Linked DNA regions of Homo sapiens: region 2 is linked to region 1. Evidence: fine-mapped expression QTL. A gene starts in region 1. The other region holds a variant in brackets. All regions are shown on one strand. Distances are from middle to middle.

Region 1 (10,194 bases):
AAAATAATGGCAGGCTTTATTTTTGTAGAAATGTATAAAGTGATTCTAAAATTTACATGAAAACATAAAAGACTGAATAGCCAGAAACAATTTTGGGAAAAAATAACAAAAAGTGAAGGACTGACATTACCAGATTTAAAATCTTACTATAAAACCATAATAATCAAGATACCAAGATAGCGTAGTTTTTAAATTTTTTGTAGAGATGACGTCTCGCTATGTTGCCCAAGCTGGTCTCAAACTCCTGACCTCAAGTGATCCTCCTGCCTCAGCCTCTCAAACTGTGGGGATTACAGGTGTGAGCCACTGCTCACCTAGCCAAGATAGTGTAGCACTGGTATAAGAACGACATACAGACCATAAAACATAATTGAGTGTCCAGAAATAAAGTTTTACATTTATGAAGGAGCTTCAACAAAGGTGCGTAGGCAATTCAGTAGAGAAAGGATGGTCTTTTCAACAAATGGTGCTGAGGTAATTGGATTTCTACAAGCAATAAAATGAATTTAAACCCTTACCTCATACCACACACAAAATTAATTCAAAATGGATAACATACCTAAATATAAGAGTTAAAAGTATAAAACCTCTATGAGAAAACATCCATAACCTTGAATTAGGCAAATATTTATTAGATATTAACACTAAATGGATTTCATCAAAATTAAAAACTTTTGTTCTTCAAAAGACACCATTAAGAAAAAAATATATTTTTAAGTCACAAACTGGGAGAATATATCTACGAATCATATATCTGATAAGGGACTTGTATCTCAGACTTATAAAGAACTCTTTCAATAATAAGACAACCCAATTAAAAATGGGCAAAATATCTGAATAGACATTTCACATATGATACACATTATGCTAGTAAACACGTGAAAAGATGCTTATTGTCAGTAGTTATTACAGAAATATAAATTAAAATTCATAAGAATCTCTATAAGCAAAAAATCAACAATACCAAGTATGAACAAGTATGTTGAAATTAGAACGCATGCACTTTGGAAAACAGTTTGGAGGTTCCTTAAAACGTTAAACATAGACGGCCGGGCGCCGTGGCTCACACCTGTAATCCCAGCACTTTGGGAGGCCGAGACGGGCGGATCACGAGGTCAGGAGATCAAGACCATCCTGGCTAACACGGTGAAACCCCGTGTATACTAAAAATACAAAAAAATTAGCCGGGCGTAGTGGCGGGCGCCTGTAGTCCCAGCTACTCGGGAGACTGAGGCAGGAGAATGGTGTGAACCCGGGAGGCGGAGCTTGCAGTGAGCTGAGATCGCGCTACTGCCCTCCAGCCTGGGCGACTGAGCCAGACTCCGCCTCCAAAAAAAAAAATGATAAACATAGACTTTCATACCACCTGCCAGTTCTACTCTTAGAAATCTTCCCAAGAGAAATGAAAATATATGTCCATGCAATCACTTATTTACAAATATTCACAGCAGCATTATTGATAATAATCCAAACCTGGAACAATCCAAATGTCCATCACCTTGTGAAAGGATAAACAAAAATGAGTATATCCATACAATGGAACACTACTGGACAATAAAAAAGAATGATGTACTGATATATGCTACAACACAAACTGATCTCAAAAACATCATGCTGAGTGAAAAAATCAGTCACAAAAGACTACATATTGTATCATTTCTTTTAAATAAAATTTCCAGAAAAGGCAAATCTAGATACAGCAAAAGTAGATTAGTGCCTAGGGCTAGGCTGGGAGTGGGGATTGGCTATAAACTCCATGAGGGACCTTTGTGGAATGATGGAAATGTTACAAAACTGGATTATGACAATGGTTGCGCAACTCTATACTTTACTAAAAATCACTGAATTGTATACTTCGAATGGATGAATGGACTTTATAGTAAGTAGATTATACTCAATAAATGTTTTAAAGGAAATTATACTCTCATAACTGAGAGTGCTGAGTGTCTATATCCCTCAGCACTAGCCAGTAGGTTTTTAATCTTTTTTTAAACCAGATTGGTTATTTTAAAAATTACATCTCATTATTCTTAATATTGTACATTTCTTTGATTTCTAGTAAAACCAAACATTTCTGTCTACTTGAGTCTTCATTATTTTCCTATAAAGATATACATCTTTTCCATAAGGAAATGTGAGATGCTATCTTTTTAAAACAGCAAACCTTTTTCAGTGATATGTGGTACAAATATTTTTTCCCAGTTTTTCATAAATTTAAAAATTTTGTTAACAGTTTTTTTTCCCATATTGAAATATTCATTTTCATGTAGCCAAATTTATCTGTGTTTTCATTTACAGTTTCTGTTTTTGGTGTTATGACAAGTAATATTCTTTTCAAAATTAACTATCACAAACCTTGATCATGGTTAGTTAAGCATCCCCTGTGCTAATAAGCCCAATGCTACTGCTACTGGGCCTTCCATTTTAAGGAAACAGATAAAAACCTAATTTTGAGTTTCAAAGCTAGAGGCAGATGGGCTTTCCTTCCTTAAACCTTTAAGTGTCAAGAGACATGACTGCTTACATGCCACATTCATGGAAAATTGCCTCATTAGAGAATTTCTGATGTGATACACTAGACATTTAAAATAGTTCTAGTGATAAGGAACTGGAAAATATTAATAAAAAGAAAGAGGTAAAAATGTGTTTCCTGTCGCTAATCATGCCAGGACTGTGACTCTAGGCCTCGCTGGCTCATGTCTCTTCGTAGAACATCAAATCATCACATAACAACATGACCACTGCGGGCATTTGTGGATGTCTGGCCAGAACAGTCTAGAACTCAATCACTCATTGTCTCACCACTGAGTCCATGAATGTTATCATTTCCCCTGTAATTCCACTCACCCACCATCCATTATCTAAAAAATACAGGAAACTCACTTTTATTTACATCTCACAAACTTAGAGATAATATGCACTGAAGAACTCTTCACTAAGTGCTGTATTACTTCACAAAATACTATGGCATTTATAAAAAACCACTTGGCTTAATGTAGTTATGACTATCACACACAAAGATACACATAAAACTTACAAAGAAATGTCATCAGAACATTTTAATATTAATTCAGATGATATTATAGCCCTGAAGTTGCAAAACTGAGGCCTGGTCATGTTAAGATACAATCAGGAGACACACTTGAATACCTGGTAACAAAAAATGACTCTGACTTCTTTGTATATTTGAGTCCTACCCACACTTTTAAGACCAGCCTAAAGTTAACTTTCCTTATCTGTCCTACTGCTTGTGGGATCTATAACTACACATTCTGGAACACATACACAGTTTTAATGTTATTCAACTGTTTTGTGCTGCTAGTCTTATCACCTCATTGAATTAAACACAAGTTCCAAGAGGGCAAAAACTGTATGTCCCTACAGCATTACAACAGGGCTAGGATTCCAGATGTTTTCATTGACTTTATCTGTACCACTTCTTGCTCTGCAGAACAACTTACTCAGATGTTCATTAAATAACATTTCTTGATTTCTAGGAAAGGTTGATACAGGGGGCTAAGAAGGCAAAAAAGTACTAGGGGGACATTTTAAAAGCTTATTATATTGTAGAGCAGACAATTCTTTAGTCAAGAAAAATATTGTGTAGTATGTAAATGCTTTGGCAGTTACCCCAGCTTTGAAGATCTTGAAGAGCTATGCATGGATTGTCTCCAGTTCTTTTTTGTATCTAAGCAGGCTTTACCTAATGACAGTGGTTCCTCACATAAGTTCCAGTGAACTTCAGGATTCCATGAGGCTGCTCTAAGACTTGACTGATAGATGGATGGCCATGATCGCCGTGTTTAATCTGAGGTTGTTCCTGCCCAGGTACCAACTGAGGTCGTTAGGCTTCAGGTATAAATGGAAAGCCTTCCTATTAATCAAGGAGAGGTTTTCCATCACCGGAGAACACTCTGATGTCCTCAGGAATGACACACAGGTGCCTGTACACAGTTTTGCCCCTAGTCTCAGGACCATTGGCTAGCTTATGCATGGGGGTTCCCTGCCTTCCAGGGAAATAAAACTGTAGCTGTAATTTTACTGTTATTTTAGTTTTTTTTTTTTTTCCTTCCGTCTCCTTGAGAGAGGCAGACAGGGGAAGTAAGAATAATGGTTTCAGCAGCTCTGGCCCTTGAATAAACAGCAAGGAAGGGTTCCATCGTCAGGGTCCATTATACATAAAGTGTGCACACCTAACCTACTGTTTATGTAAACAATGGTTATAATTCCCAGGAAAAAAAGATGGCCTCCAGCTCACTTACTCTGTAACCCGTATCTTGATGATTAGTTCCTTTGTCTCTACTAGAATTTCCAATCCATCATTAACCCTCAGTCAAAATGCTGAAAATGGTGACATCACTTAATATCCTAATTCTAGTAAAACAGGGCTAGAAAATACCTTCATAAAATTAAGTTTAAATAATAAATCTCAAGTATTAGTGCTCTTAATATGCCATCTGTCTTCTTAAACTGGGAGTACCTTTGGATTTCCTTAATTCCTCTTGACCCACCCTTTCGTAAGTGAGTACGAAATGGGTGAGAATAAGACTTTGGCATCTATAGCATCTGATTAAATCTTTACTAGTAGTTATTGGTTGGTGAGATGCAGGACAATTTATGTCTTTAAGTCCCAGCTGAATGGGGGTAACACCGCTCAAGCTGTTTTCAGGATTAAATGAGATAATGCAAGTCAAATTCTGCACAGCGTGAGGGACACAGTATGTGCACAACAAACTCTAAGACTTTTAAACACTTTCAATTATTTTTAAAAAGTGGGGTAGGAGACAAGTTTCTACCCAATTTTTAGTAATAACATATAAGAAGGGGAAAGCTTTTGAATTTTTAAAACTTCAGTATTTTAAAATAATGCAGTCACTCTCACACACAAATTAGTCCATGGTCTTTGATAAAGCAAGACATTAGGTGTAATTTTGCTTCAAATTTAATACCCACACTCGTTGACACTGTTGGAAACACTGAGGCTGGCGGTGGGAGGGTGCAAAGCACTTGCTTAGGAACCAGCTGAGAAATCCTCACTGATTTCTCAGGGAGGAGGAAACCTTTCCCTTCCCTCCCCGGGACAAGTCGAAGCCCCACCCCGAGGGAGATTTGTGTCCCTGAATGTAGTAGTTGGTGTCCGGGGCCTGCGCAGAAGAGGACAGTCCGCAAGGGGCGGAAGACAAGACAAAAATGACTCCAGTTCGCTAGACGCGCAGAGGGGCGGATAGCGCGCGGACCCCGCCTTCCCCAACCGAGTGTGGGTTCCAGTCGCTGGGGAGGACCTGGTGGCCCCCTGACCTTGGACGAGCCATATTGGACGCCCCGGCGCCGTCCCGTCTTCCACGCTGCCAACTCCACCGCTCCCGCCCCGAACTGCGGGTAGGTCCAGGCCGCCAGGCCCCGCCTCGCCGGCCCCAGCCCTGATTGACACTGGAGTTGGTACATACGGGTCTGCAGCGGAGGCGAGCAGGAGGGTGAGCGCTATTTTAAACATGGCTTTCTCTTTCCCTTAGCCTAGGAGCCACCGCAGCGCACCCAGCCCGCGAGTACAGCCGCATGGGAATAATCCCAACATTTGCCTGATTTATTTTCTTCCCTCTCCTTACGCTTGTACTTGTTTTTCTCCTCTCGCTGTTTTCCCTTCACACTAATTCGCAACCTGGCAGTTTGCAAAGAGGAAACTCCCTTTCGGAATGGAAAGCCGCTTTTGCTTCTTGTTGTTGGGGGTGGAAAACATTCCAGCGAGAATGAGTTCAAAAAGAAGGGAAACCGCGTCACTGGAGAGAAAGTAACATTAAGAGATCGATGAGGACGGAGTGGGTAGGGGGGACAGAGAGAGGAACGTCTGCAACAGGCATCTAAAAACAAGCGTGGAGGAGCAAAGATTCCCAATCCCCGGGTTACTACCGCGCGCGTTCTGCGCGAGCCATTGCAATGCCAGCATTTACTGTAAGCAGAATTTGAAGGCTTTTGAAATCTTTTTTTGGTAAGACTTACCTTTCTCTTCGGCATAATGACTATGTCGGTGAAGCAAAAAGTAAAGCAACGGACTGGAACTGCTGGCGCCGCCGCTGGATGCTGCCTCTGCCTCTGCAGCTGCTCACGCGCAGGGCACGACGTAGCCCGGCCTCTTCGACCTGCACCTCCGCGGCTCCCTCTGGGGGCCCTCTGCTCGCCTCCCTGCTGCTCCAATGAGGAGCCCCGCCAGCCGGCCGCGAGGCCCCATTGGCTGAGGCAACGTTCTAAATTCCACGAGGGCACGCCCACCTCCGCGCGCGGTACGCGCTGTTGTAGTTTCCACTTCACCGAAAAAAATCTGCCTGGCGACTGAGCATGCCCAGTTCAACTAGTAGCCTCCAGGCCACACAATCCTGAAGTTTCATTGTTTCGCTGCTCTCTCTTTGAGATTGTAAGAATAAGAACAGTGTGTGTCTTCATAGGAAGGAAAAAGAGTAAGAATGAATACGTAAACTTTATAATGTAAATATATACACAGCAGGTACCTTATTCATTTCCTACCCATAAAGGCTTTTAATGAATGTTACATGGTGGGAATCTGTAAAGCGTGGGAAGGTACTCTGTACTGGAAGAGCGTGGCAACTTCTAAAGGCCTCAGTTTCCCCCCCTAGATATATAGTGACAACAGTCCCTAAAATCACTTAGCTCTAATTTTCTGAAATCTGTGATTATAAATCACTCACTAATTCAGCTAACTTCAAACTAGATGTGAAGACGAATAGGACATGTTTGTTACGGAAATTAGGAAAAGAAAGAACAAGGCAAAAACTGATTATTTTATATTTGAGACATATATTTGAATGACACCCGTCATGTTACACTTTATGCGTAATATTTCTCAAAGTTCTGCAAGGCATAAAATGAGCATTGCAAAAATATTTCTGAATTCATTTTATGAGACCAGATTTACTCTGATACCAAAACCAGTGAAAGACTTCAAAAGAGAGTTACAGACCAATATCACTCATAAACATAGACACAAAAGTCGTGAACAAAATTTTAGTAAATGAAACTCAACAACATTTAAAGGGACAATACATCATGACCTGTGGGGCTTATCTTGGGAATGCAAAGCTGCTTTTTTAATATCTGAGAATCAATCAATGTAATTGGCAGGATTAATAGAATAAAGGGGGAAAAACAATCCTTTCAGCAGATGCAGGAAAAGCGCTAGTGAATGGGTAAGCAAATTGTGATGAGCACATGCAGTGGAATACTATTCAGCAATAAAAAACAATAAAAAATTTTCCTACATGGATGAATATCAAAAACAAAGTGCTGTACGAAAGAAGTCAAATACAAAAGACCACACTGAATGATTGCATTCATATGAAATTATAGAAAAAGCAAAATTGGGCAAAGTTAGTTTCAGAATCATCTTAGCAGGCAAAGCTCACATCATAGGAAAATGTGTTGAAGCCTTACATTACAAATATGGCCAAATCCACTTTGGTAACACAGAGGCTGCAAATATGTATTAAAAATATCATGTATTAAATATGTATTAAAAAAGCAATGAAGTTTAATATTTCACTTTTTCTTTAGTAATTTTCAGAATACATTAATTGATCTAGTACTCTCCAGAGGTGGTTGATTACTTTCTTTTTTGGAACATCTTTATGAACTCATGGATTTTTACATATTTGGTGTGCATCAGTGTATTGCTATCATTATTATTACCTTTTTAATGCTCCTATTACCACATCTTTAGCCAATGCATACCCTTTCAAATTAGTGCTTGTGTCCTTTTGACATGATCTTAATCATTTTTGATAGATTCCCTGTTCTTGGGCATTCAGTGAATGACAATAGTATACTGAAACGAATTAAGATAAAAACCAATTGCTTAGAGCTAGATAAAAATTTACAAGTTAATAATTTTATCATTAAAATAATATTTATAATGAAGATGTCTTTCAAGATATTAATTTGCCAAATACTTGATAGTTAAATAAAGAAAAAGTCAGTGAAAACATTTTTAGTAAGATATGTGTGAGAAGGATACTGAGTAGCACTTGCAATCTGGACTGGATGGCTATTTTTCTTCATGGAGATGGAAAGGTGCCACAACAAAGGTAGTGCTAAGGTGAATATTTCTCCTCTGTGATGAAAAATAACTCACAAAATTGGCTTCTTTGTTAATTTTTTTTCAAAACCAAACACTCAGATCATCAACAGCAAACAAAATTGTGAATGTTTTTACTGCACACAATAAAAATGCTACGATGAAATTGAAGCTTGCTTGTTGGATGAAGAAAGCTGATTGTGAGGACCTCGAGTTCTTGGAATCTTTAGTTCATTTACAAGTTATGAAAATAACAGCTTCGGTTGAAAAACAACAGCATTGCTTATCTTTCCTTTGATGTAGATTGCACCTGGCTGAGCACTACTCTAGGAAATGAAGTGTTCTCCCTTGTACCTTTAGTAGCCTTCAAGATCTGGGAAAGTCAGTGCAAACCTCTACTGGTGGCCCTGGAGGTAAGAAGAGTAGGCAAAGAGAATGATTTAGCAGGTAGCTAGAATTCTAGGTTAAGAGATAAAGACATCTGGGCAGAAATGAGGGTGTCACATAGAAGACAGTGAGGAGGTCAAGCTGGTAAGAAGTACAGACTCATTTGTTTATCAATATATTCCACTGAGCATTTCTACTACTTTGGAATATCAGCCTCTAAGACAGTAAAAGTAGGATGTATATACTATCTTAGCTAAGGTAGACCTGGATAAATTAACAGAGTTACTGACTGAGACAGAAAGAAAAAAAATAGTGAACAAACTTGTTTTCCAATTCCAGCTCCTCTCCTCTTTTGTCCTACTCAAAACTGTTGGAACTGTACACCTACTTCACATTTTTCAATCAGCAGGGCAAAACCATTTATAGTGTCATGACTATCATTAAGGAAAAGAAAGAGACAGAGACATTGACAGACACACACACGCAAACACACACACAGAGAGAGAGAGAGAGAGAGGGAGAAGGGAGAAGGGAAGGCTAAGAAAAGCAAAGAAAGGGCCAAGCATAGAAAATAGCAGAGTATATATGGTAAAGGTAAGTAATGTTTCATAAGATAATTGTTTCTATTTTCCATATGTGCTCATATAAACACATACACAACACAGATATGTATGTGTGTATGTTGGATTGTGACATGAAATATATTTTTAGTATGGTCTTGGTCAAAAAAATTGAATGCCACTGCTAATGAATGTTGTGGATCTTTGACATTCCGAAAAAAAAATGCTTAATATTAAAATTTTTTTTTTAGAGGTAAGATCTCATTCTGTTGCCCAGGCTGGCATGCAGTGGCACAATCATAGCTCACTGCACGTCAGACTGCTGGGCTGAAGAGATCCTCCTGCCTCAGCCTCCTGAGTAGTTATATAGGTGCAAGCCACCACACCAGGCTTGAGAGGAAGTTTTCAAGGGAAAGAATGACTTGCAGATCACCTCCTTCTTGAACTGTCCCTCTTTTCCTCTTTCAGGCAGACACAGGCAGGGTCCCTTAGGCTTTTGCTGTAAGTAATGACAAATTACTGGAGAAGTCAGATCCAGAATGTACATATTGTTGCTTTTGATAGTTGCAACTGTACACCTACTTTGCATTTTTCAGACAGCAGGGCAAAACAAATGATAGTCATGACTATCATTAAGGCAAAGAAAGAGACAGAGACATTGGCAGACAGACACACACACACACACACACACACACAGAGAGAGAGAGAGAGAGAGACAGACAGAGGGAGAAAGGAAGAAAGGGGAAAAGTGAAAATGATACTGTGTTGCTTCTGATAGTTTGTAATTCCAGATTAAGTTACTAATCTTCCATAAATAGGTCAAAAAATACACAGTGAAGAATTCAGGTGTGTAACAAAACAACATCAAAAACAACAAATAAGAGGTGGCAAAAGAATATTTTGTTTGTATTTTCCAGTCAAGTCTCTACTTTGATTGGGTGCTAACTTTTGAAGAGACCAAGGTTAGTTTTTACAAAGCAACAATAAGAGTCCAAGAACTAACGGTCCCAAATCAAATGAGCTGCCTGATATTAGTGCAGATCCCTAGGCCCCAGTCCCAAGGTATTGAATGGCTAGGCTTGGAAATCTGCATTTTCAAACAAGCTTTTCATGTGTTGCTTACACTATAATTCGGGGACTAGAGTATTTAATAGACTAGGCCCT
Region 2 (10,194 bases), 42 kb after region 1:
TAACCAAAACATAACCCAAACTATAGAGCCAAGGAAAGCAGGAAACATTCTAGGCAGAGCAGAGATGCTCTGTGTCAGGTTCAATTCAACAGTGTCACAAGATTTGTACTTCCTCACTCATATTTAGCAGATGCCTACTGTGTGGCAGTGCTTTGCCAGGGGCTAGGAATTTTAAATTGAGTAAGAAATAGTCCATGTCTTCAATGAAATAACCCCAGCAGTACAGTGTGACAAATGCTAGGAAGAGGCATCAGCAAAGTACCATGGGAGAAAAGGAGATTTGGGGTGTCTGGGGATATGTTTAATTTGAGGTGTGTTGGGACATTCAGTTGGAACTGAACTGATCTCAGACTTCATTTGGCAGTTGGATTTATAGGCTATAGCTTGGAGCAGATAGTATGAATGGTGATATATGATAAGAGTATCTATAGGTTGTAGGCCAAGTGCAGTGGCTCATGCCAGTAATCCCAGCACTTTGGGAGGCTGAGGTAGGTGGACCATTTGAGGTCAGGAGTTCAAGATCAGCCTGACCAGCTGGTGAAACCCCATCTCTACCAAAAATACAGAAAAATTAGCTGGGTGTGGTGGTGCATGCCTGTAGTCCCAGCTACTTGGGAGGCTGAGGCAGGAGAATCGCTTGAACCCTGGAGGCAGAGGTTGTCACAAGCCAAGATCACACCACTGCACTCCAGCCTGGGTGACAGAGTGAGACTCCATCTCAAAAAAAAAAAAAAAAGTATCTATAGGTTGTAGTTGAAGTTAAGGAGTTTGGAGAGAGTCATGAGGGTACAATTAAAATGACTGAAGAGCTCTGGGGAGTATTGGCATTTAATGGAGAAAACAAGAAGAGGAAGATGGAAGGAGGTAGAAGTAAACCAGGAAAGCAACAGAAATGGAGGCAAGAGTGAGCACCAAGAAGTGTCCAATGCTGCACAGCACTCCAAAGTATATGTTGAATTTGGAAAGGAGGAGATCACTGGTGACATTCATTAGCCAGCTTAGAGCCATGAAAATTAAGGAAGGAGAGAGAGCAAATGTAAATACATTCTTGGTATTGTAAAGGAAAATCCAGCAACTTTTCCACTTGAATAGCACACTTTGACACAAGCTTCAAGCAGCTAGTCTAGTAGGCTCTAGTTCAACTCTAAACTCTTTTTCGTCATTTAAATAAGATCTACTTTCAAGCCCTGAGAAGCCAGGAAAGAGAGTATGAAGTGAACTGACACTTGAGTAGTTATCAGGTCCTGGTCTTTTACATACATTATTTCATTTAATACCCACAAAACCATTTAAAGAAGTTATCATTTTTTAGTTTAAGATTCAAAGGAATGATAAAAGTGAGGTGTAAGTTGTAGCATTGCTTACTAACCTCAACTGTTACCACTTTGTTTTGATTTTATAGCCTCAGGAAGACTTAACATTTATCTTATGTTATCTTTACCTTATGCTTATGAGTCTTCCAGGTTTTGAAAAGTCTTGGGCCATTGGCTATCTGTGACCTATCGGAATACTTCTTTTAGGGTCACTCCCACCTTCTCTTGCAAGTTGCATTACAGGAGCATCACCTGCATCAGAGCTTCCTGTGTCGGCGCTCCTGGCTCATCACTTAGCTGATCCCCCTTCTGCAATTCTTAGGGGATCTTCAAACTTCAACATCTATTCTTTTTTGTTTTCTTTGGTTATCAACTTAAAAGATCACATCGCATCTCCCTAAAACCTATATCCAATCCTATGATGATTTTCTTCCAACTGGAAAAATGTACTCTGAGCAACTAATTTAAATCATTCACCTGCCACTCATATTTCCATTTCATATAAACTGCTATTTATGAATTTCAGAAAAATTGAGTGTTATCAATTCCATGAGGGCTTTGGGTGATCACTTGAGCTTTATTATGCACTGAATGTTTGTGTTCCCCCAAAATTCATATGTTAACACCCTGCTTCCCAAATATGATGGTATTAGGAGTTGGGGCCTTTGGGAGGTAATTAGGATTAGATGAGGTTATAAGGGTAGGGACCCTATGAATGAGATTACTGCCCTTATCAGGGTCCTGAAAGAGCTTGCCTCCCCTCTCTGCTCTTCAGTATGTGAGGATAAAACAAGAAACTTGGCAGTCTGCAACTTGGAAGAGGATCTGCACCAAAGCCGGACCATGCTGGCATCCTGATCTCAGACCTCCAGCCTCCAGAACTGCGAGAAATAAGTTTCTGTTATTTATAAGCCATCTATTCTATGATGCTTTTTTATAGCAGCCTGACAAACACCAGGTTCTTGGAGGAAGTGATGGGAATATGGACTCTTGATGCTTTTCTTTAATTTAATGTTTATGTAGTTTTTTGTATTTTAAAATTTATATGATTTACATATTAGTGAGGTCAGTCTACTATTTTAATGTCTAGGAGATGTATTAACTTGTATAAACAGGACCCCAAAATGGTATAGATTAATTGAAGAACCTTTTTAAAGCAATCTATCATTTTAAGGGTACATCTCTGAGAATCTGATTTTTTATAGCATTGTTTTTGAAATAAGAAACTCTCAAGAACTTGTCCTCTTAGCCCACATGTGGACAGCTCCAGGCAGTTTAATCAGGTCTCTGTGTTGCTGAACAATGTACCTTATACAAAATCACATCTGGGGCTAAACCTCAACTCATTTCAATTTCTCAAGCAACATGTGAACAAAACAATATTTACTTTAAATATCACAAGCTGTATGTTCATGTTGACATATAATATTAAGATTAAATCACATAGCCTAAATGCCTACTTTTTATTTGGTTTAAAAGTTCATTTAAATACTATCTTATTTCCTAGAGGCTTAGACTCTTAAACCAGAAAGCCTTTTCTACGTTACACTGTAAAATCAAGCTATTGGATTTAAAAAGTTCACCAAACATGAACAGAAAGCTAACACCACTTTTAAATGATTCTGGAGTAGCATTAAAAAACCCTCAATTTGGAAGGTCATTGAATTCAAATCCAATCTCTTTATGCTTAAAGAGCCTATAAAATAGCTCTTCAGGCATAAAGGTATAATGATTAATGTAAATATTCCTTATACTTAAAAAATTTTGACTTTACCTTCAATCCATTTGTCTTAACCATAACTTCTGGCTCCATTATAAACATATTTAATTCACTTCTAATTGACAATTCTTTTTATTTTTTAAGGGAAACTTGTATATCCCTCCTAAGGTTAGCTTTGTTGTATGATTTTGATGTGCATGGCTACTTTGGGGTGAGACAGGGAACAACCAATATCTTGCCATTCCCATTTTTCTAGACATTGGTATTGAATCTAGAAAGAAAGAAATGAAAGGACTGAAATGTCTGCAAAAAATTCCAAAGTAGAAGTTTTAAGGAATTTTTTTAAATAAAGAAAGTCAGATAAAAATGAACTGGAAAAAATGTATAATTGCTGTGCAAATGGTCATTTTTTGGAAATAAGACAAACTTTCTCCATCAGAAGGAGGAAATGGTTGCATATGGGCTAATAGTTTTGTAGGAAAACTGGCGATTATTACAAGGACAGAACTGCAAAAGTGTAATATCTAGTTTTAGTCTAGAAAGTAATTGGGCTAAGTGAAGCTCAATTCTCTGATGGATTGCAACCTATCTGAGAATATGGCCTCTGTAATACTTTGGGAATGGAATTTTGTGCCAGAATTTAAAAACCTTAGTAAATTGCCAGAATTGAGAGAGAAAGAAGGCTTGGTGTTGGGTACTGTTAGTTGAAAGTTGTCAAGGAAGAAACACAACCAGGTGAAATAAGGAAAGATTTCAAAGGCATAAAAGGAGTAACAGGGAGGGCAAACCTTGACTTTCTTATCCATCACCTTATTGAAGGGTGGTCTAGTTAGATAATGCTAGAAGAGCTGAAAGTGACCTCGAGAACCTCTGCTTCTACCACTTCATTTTTAGATGACAAAATTGAGCCTCGAGAAAAGCTACTTGGTGGTAGACCTGGGATTCGAACCAAGAAACTCTGTTCTCAGTCTTTGGGAAAAAATTATTTTATTTAACATCACCTAACATGTTCTCATTAGTTATTGCTAAGGTATTATAATAAAAACAATGCTGTGGTTGCATGTAAATGTATACAAATGAACATCATCATCATCATCATCATCACTATTTTTCTGAGCATTTGGAAAGAAAACTGTTGCATTTGTCTTAGATAAAAGACTCAGATAATTCCCTAGAAGCCTGAGGACAAGATTCTAGATCAATCCTCTAAACTAGGTTGATTCCTCATCCACTTTCTGACCTCCTACTTTCTTGGTGAGAAATGATTATTGACCCTCCTCAATGAGGGTGTAATGATAGAGCATAGTATTTTGTCCCCTATTGGATGTTGCATGGAGAGTTGGGCTGAAATTCTTCTGTGCAAGTGAGAAGCCATAAAGGGAAGAAAGGGTCAGACACTTCCAAATCTTTGGATTTTCTTAGTTCCTCTTTTGTAAGCCTCAATTGTTGTGTGTAGTCAGCAGGGTCCCAGAGGCAGACCACCACGGACCATCTTGGCAGTACTTGTCAGCAGCAGTGTCCAGCTCCCAGGGACTAACTCAGTTAGTGGTAGCTCTTGTTCCTAGTGACAGAGCCTTCCTGGGGCTGCTCCAGTAGCAGCCAGAGCTCCTAAGGAGAAGCAGCTCTGCCAGTCTTCCAAGTCCCAAGCTCCATCTCCTTCAGCAACAACACAGGTCTCCATTATTCTTTCTGAAGATACCCTTTGTCCCAGTTCCTACTGAATCCAGCAGTGTTTTTCAATCTGTGTGTTTCAGATGCCTGAGAAGTCACCAAATTACTGCAAGAACAAGTGAATTAATATTTACATAAAGTATGTATGTTAATAAGCTGAATAAATGTTAATAGTTACTGTACTTATACTCTGTACTGTACTAAGCCCTTTGCACACATTATCTCATTTAATCCTCATAAAAATGCTATGAGGTAGGTGTAATTATGACCCCCATTTTACAGGTGAGGCAACTCAGTCTCAGAGAGGTTAAGCAAATTGCTGAAGATCATGAGACCAGGAAATGGATAAACTGGTCTTCAAATCCAGGTCATTTAATCTCAAAGTCTACGATCTTAATCATAACATAAGTATGTCTCTTACATATGTGTATTACTTTTTTACAAATGTTTTTGTGTTTTGATTTAAAAGTTATAGATGAAAAGTATTATGTAATTTGTAGTAGATTTTTAAATCTTTGTTTATTTTCACTATTTTCTACACTGAAAGTACCTCAACTGCCATATGATTGGTACATGACACAGTCTTTTTAAAGAGCTCTTTCAAGGATTTTTACTCAAGGCCTTTAAAAAATATAGTAGAGAAAAATGACTTTGTAAGTCAATGGAACATCATATTTGTACCTGACCTCTTAGCAGCATTCTGTTGTTCCTTAAGCAGGGGACCCTATCACTGATTGATCCCTTGAGTCAAATAAGCAATGAGGCACCTCTCAAGACTTTGAGTTACATTCAAATCATCAATTCTGACACAAAAAATTGGAATAGACAAAACATGGTGAAATGAACTTAATTGACTAGCTATTTCATTCATTTATTCACCCATTCAATACATTTTATTGTCTCCTACCAGGCATTGAGTTAGGAACTAAAGATGCAGCCTTCCAAGCAAGAAGTGGTGTTTGTCAATTGCAAGAAAATGTGACACCTGACTAGTTACTTTGCCTGTAAAAACTCTTTTATTCTTTGTTTTTAATATTTATATTCTACATACCCTCACCCTCTAAAAATTTACTTAGCAAATGCAAAACTTAGGAAATATAGGCCAATTAGAGTTTCGCTCTAAAAAATAATCAGGTCCTACTTGGTCTGCTCCCCAGGGCTCTGAAACATCACTACCCATGGGTCACTCTACAGGGACCCTAGTTACCATGGCTGCTAGCTAAATCTTTGAATCCAGTTTTGTGCTTTACTGTGTGGGGGCTCTGCTTGGACACAAAGGAAGGATTACAGAGAAATTTCTCAAAAAGCCTTTAGTTCGTCTTTTGATTCTAAAGAAAAACTATGACTGATAGATTTTTGGGAAATGGCATTTCAAATCTTTAGGTTAGAATCAGAAGACAGGTTAGACAGGAGGAATTTAGGGGGCTTTTGCGTACTTGGAAATCAGCATCAAGACAGCCTTGCTGCTAGCCTCAGGAATAAGGCCTACTTCTAAAAATTGGGTTTGGCCATGGCCTCTGGGCCTGAACCCTTCTTAACCTCAGTCTTTCTTTTTTTTCCTAACATGTCAGCAGTGCTGAAGCCTTGCTAACTGCTGGCAGACTTTTCTAGTGCTGTCTGCTTGTAGCCTGTCCTGGATCCCCCATAATTGGGCACTGCCTAC[T/G]TGGTCATGTAGTGGTGAATACTCTTTTTTGGCTTACCTTTCACGTGGATGTTGCCCTGCCTATTGATAACCATTTTTCATTCATTCAACAAATATTTATTGCATGCCAGGCATTGTTCTGGGACCTGGAAATATAACAGTGAATAAAATAGACAAAACCAACAACAATGACAACAAAAACCCCTTGCCTTCATGAAGCTTCACATTCTAATAGATAGTGAAGTCTGATGAGCTGGCTTGCTTCCTCATCAGCCACAGCTGGATACTTTCCCCTATAACTGCACATTCTGTTTCCAGGTCCTAATTCTCTATAGTCTGTGGTCCCACTGCAGCGAAGGAAACTGTCCTCTTACAGGATAAAGAGTGTTATATGAAGAAAGGAAACAGGACCAAAAGCAAGTAAATAGGGGTGGCATAAACTTAGAGATAGAAATATGTTCAGGTTTGCAAAAATTCGAGGAACAATAAATAAAACTTTTAAAGTGTATTTAACAAAGAGAAACAAAGATGCAGCAGCCTACTGGGTGTAGTTTAGTCAGCAGTGATCTATTACTGAAAGATTACTTAGAAAAAACCAAGCTCCTCAACCTCAGTTTTACTTGTGTCTTTTTGCAGAGGAGAGTAGGGAGAGGAGTAGGAGGGAAGGAGAGACTCCTTAGCAAGAGAAAGAGAAGCCCAAAGTGGGAGAACATAATTATATTCTAAATAGTTTCCCAACTCTGATAACTTGCATCCCAGTGTTCTGTGGAAGATGTTCAAATTGCATTGCTGATCTAATCTGGAAAGAATGTAGAACTGTAAAGGGTGGTAGAAGTGGCAGGAAACTGGGCATGGTTAAATACTGTTCCCATTTTGAAGAAGTGGGAGATTTTGCATAATAAACATCAGTGACTAGATGTTGGATATTTAAAGGTATATAAACTATTTATTGATAGACAAGGCTTATAGATTTATTTCTTCTGGGACACAAACATGATGTGGCCATAGAGGCCAGTGGCCTCAGTATGCTTAGTCTTGGACATGAAAGCTGAAGTATCATGTCTTGGCTGGATGCAGTCATTCATGCCTGTAATCCCAGCACTTTGGGGGGCCAAGGTGGGAGGATCGCTTGAACCCAGGAGTTCAAGACCTGTCTAGGCAACATGGTAAAACCCTGTTTCTACAAAAAAATACAAAAATTAGCCAGGCATAATGACACACACTTGTAGTCCCAGCTACTCAGGAGGATGAGGAGGGAGGTTTGTTTGAGTCCTAGGAGTTGTAGCCTGTAGCAAGCTATGATCCCACCACTGCAATACAGCCTGGACAATAGTGAGATCCTACGTCTTGAAGAAGGAAAGAAAGAAAGAAAGAAAGAAAGAAAGAAAGAAAGAAAGAAAGAAAGAAAGAAAGAAAGAAAAGAAGAAAGAAAGAAAGAAAGAAAGGTAGGAAGGAAGGAAAGAAAGAAAGAAGGAAGGAAGGAAGGAAAGGAAGAAAGAAAGAAAGAGAAGGAGAGAAAGAGAGAAAGAGAAAAAGGGAGAGAGAGAGATAGAGAAAGAAGAAAAAAAAGAAAGAAGAAAAGAAAGAAAGAAAAAGTGGCATGGTCTCTGGTGGGGAAGAATCTTCTTTATTTGCTGCAGATCTTCACAGAGCTTGTTGTCCAGACCTTTGGCCAGGACTCAGCTGTAATTTCCATCCTTCACGTCCTTCTGTCTGTTTAAGAACCAATCTGGGATCTTGTACTGGCCTGGGTTTGGCATGATGATGATCACACATATCACTTCATGCTCAGTGAATCCTCTAACCTCTTGATGAGGTCAATCTCTGTTTTCCCCAACAACACATGAGCATGTTTTCATCTCACACTCTTAATGGTACTGATGGTAAATTTCTGCCATCCATTGATGTTGGTGTTGAGTGCAGTCGTCCCTTGGTATGCACAGTGTATTGGTTTCAGAACTCCCAGAGGATACCAAAATCCTTGGATGCTCAAGTCCCTTATATAAAATGGTGTAGTATTTGTATATAACCTATGCACATATTCTCATATACTTTAAATCATCTCCTGATTACTTGTAATATCTAATACAACATAAATGCTATGCAAATAATTGTTACACTCTATTATTTAGGAAATAATGACAAGAAAAAATGTCTGTGCATGTTCAGTAAACACAACCATCCATTTTTACCAGGTATTTTTTAATGCAAGGTTGGTTGAATCCTCAGATGTCGAGCCCATGGATACTCTCCACAGCCAGAGAGAGAGTACTGACTGCACTTGCAAAAATTGCTGGAGTATAGCAGGGATTATGAGAGATATGGTAGTAGCATGTAGACCTCCTGTGGGAGAGAAATAGTGGATTTTTTAAAAGTTTGTTTGGAAGCTTCTAGATTAGGATTGGGCAAACTATGGCCCACAGGCCAAATGCAACCCATTGCTTATTCTTGTTAATAAAGTTACATTCCAAGGAAGCCATGCCAATTTATTTATGCATTGTCTATGTCTGCTTTCATGCCACAATAGCAGAGTTGAGAAGATTATCATATGGCCTACAAAATTCTAAATATTTACTTCTTATGTATTGCTTTATAGAAAACTTTGATTCTAGGTAGAAAAAGCACTGGGCACTAGGACTTGAGTTTGCTAGGAACAGTTACGTCCAATGAAACAATAATTTCTTTTTGGTCAGACTTTCCAGACAGAACAGGGAAATGTTATTCACACTGAGCATCTGGTCTTCACTAAAAATTCAACCACCATTTCTTGAGTATTTACTATATAACAAGCATTCGGAATATAAAGATGAAAAATTGTGTGGAACAGGAGCCACATACATAAGGGGATAATTCCAAATAAAGTAGTACTTGCTATGAGAGGAGTGTGTCCAGAATGGTGCAAGAGCTCTGAGGGGGACGTTTACTAAATCTGGGATTTATAGCAAAGGAATACAGTGGGATCAGTGGGTAGAAAATTACTAAGAGGAAACATCAAGGATAGACGGCCAGAGAGTTTCTGGCCAAACTGACTTGATGGGGTTAGACATGAAGAAGACAAAGTGCAAGATGAGTACTAAAGACTAAAGAACAAGCAAGAATTAGGTCTGAGATGAAGCAAGATTCCAAGCAGAGAGATCCACTTCAGCAGTGGCTCATGGCACAAGATAACATGTTTAGTGGGAGAATAAAATTCAGTGTGACATTATTATAAAGTGCAAAGTGGGAAATGGCAGGAGCTGCAGGTTGAGGCCGGGTTCAAAGAAGGAATGTTTTTGCCATGCTGATGAATTTGAACTTTATTATAGAAGCAAAGTATTTCAATATACTGAAGTATTTTAATTGCTGGAGTAAAACTGTCAGATTTGCAACTTAAATGAGCCCATTTGGCAATGATGTGAGACAAAAGAAGAAACAGGGAGCCTGGCTCAGGGGTTACTAATAGAAACCAATCAAAAAGAGGTTAGTGCCTGGACTGGGGCAGTGTTAGTATGGGTTGAAAGGAGGAGCACATTCGAGAAATATAGGATGTAAGATAGGCAAAAATTAGCAACTGATTAGACTTAGTGATGCAAGAATATGATAAATCTAGAGTAACCCATAGATTTCTGGCCTAGACAAGTGATGTCATCAATTGCTGATATGGGAAAGGCAGAAGGAGAACCAGGTTTGGGCATGGTAAAGATGAAGAATTCGGTTCTGAACATGTTGAAGAGAGGAACCTGTAGGTAATCTATTTGGAGATTTCCAGAAAGAAGTTATATATGGTCCTGAAACTTAGGGGGGAAATGGGGCCAAGTACTTGTACATCAGGGTACAAGTAGTGGTTAAAAATAAGTAGAAAAGCATAT

The links.
Region 2: its variant is fine-mapped to the expression of HMGN3 in whole blood (INTERVAL, PIP above 0.99).

What each region holds. Positions count from the first base shown.
Region 1 is chr6:79,228,549-79,238,742 of GRCh38, forward strand. It overlaps HMGN3 (high mobility group nucleosomal binding domain 3), which reads right to left and starts at 6,134. Exons shown (of 7, transcript NM_001201363.2): 1 at 5,998-6,134. The coding sequence starts at 6,012. It overlaps HMGN3-AS1 (HMGN3 antisense RNA 1), which reads left to right and starts at 5,126. Exons shown (of 2, transcript NR_040671.1): 1 at 5,126-5,379; 2 at 5,514-8,252. RefSeq lists enhancers at 1,154-1,654, 4,672-5,462, 5,463-6,252 and a silencer at 5,410-5,459.
Region 2 is chr6:79,270,163-79,280,356 of GRCh38, forward strand. No RefSeq gene overlaps it. Among named protein-coding and RNA genes, the nearest start is that of LCAL1, 38 kb to the right of the region's middle. The variant T/G (reference allele first, on the strand shown) is at 6,368.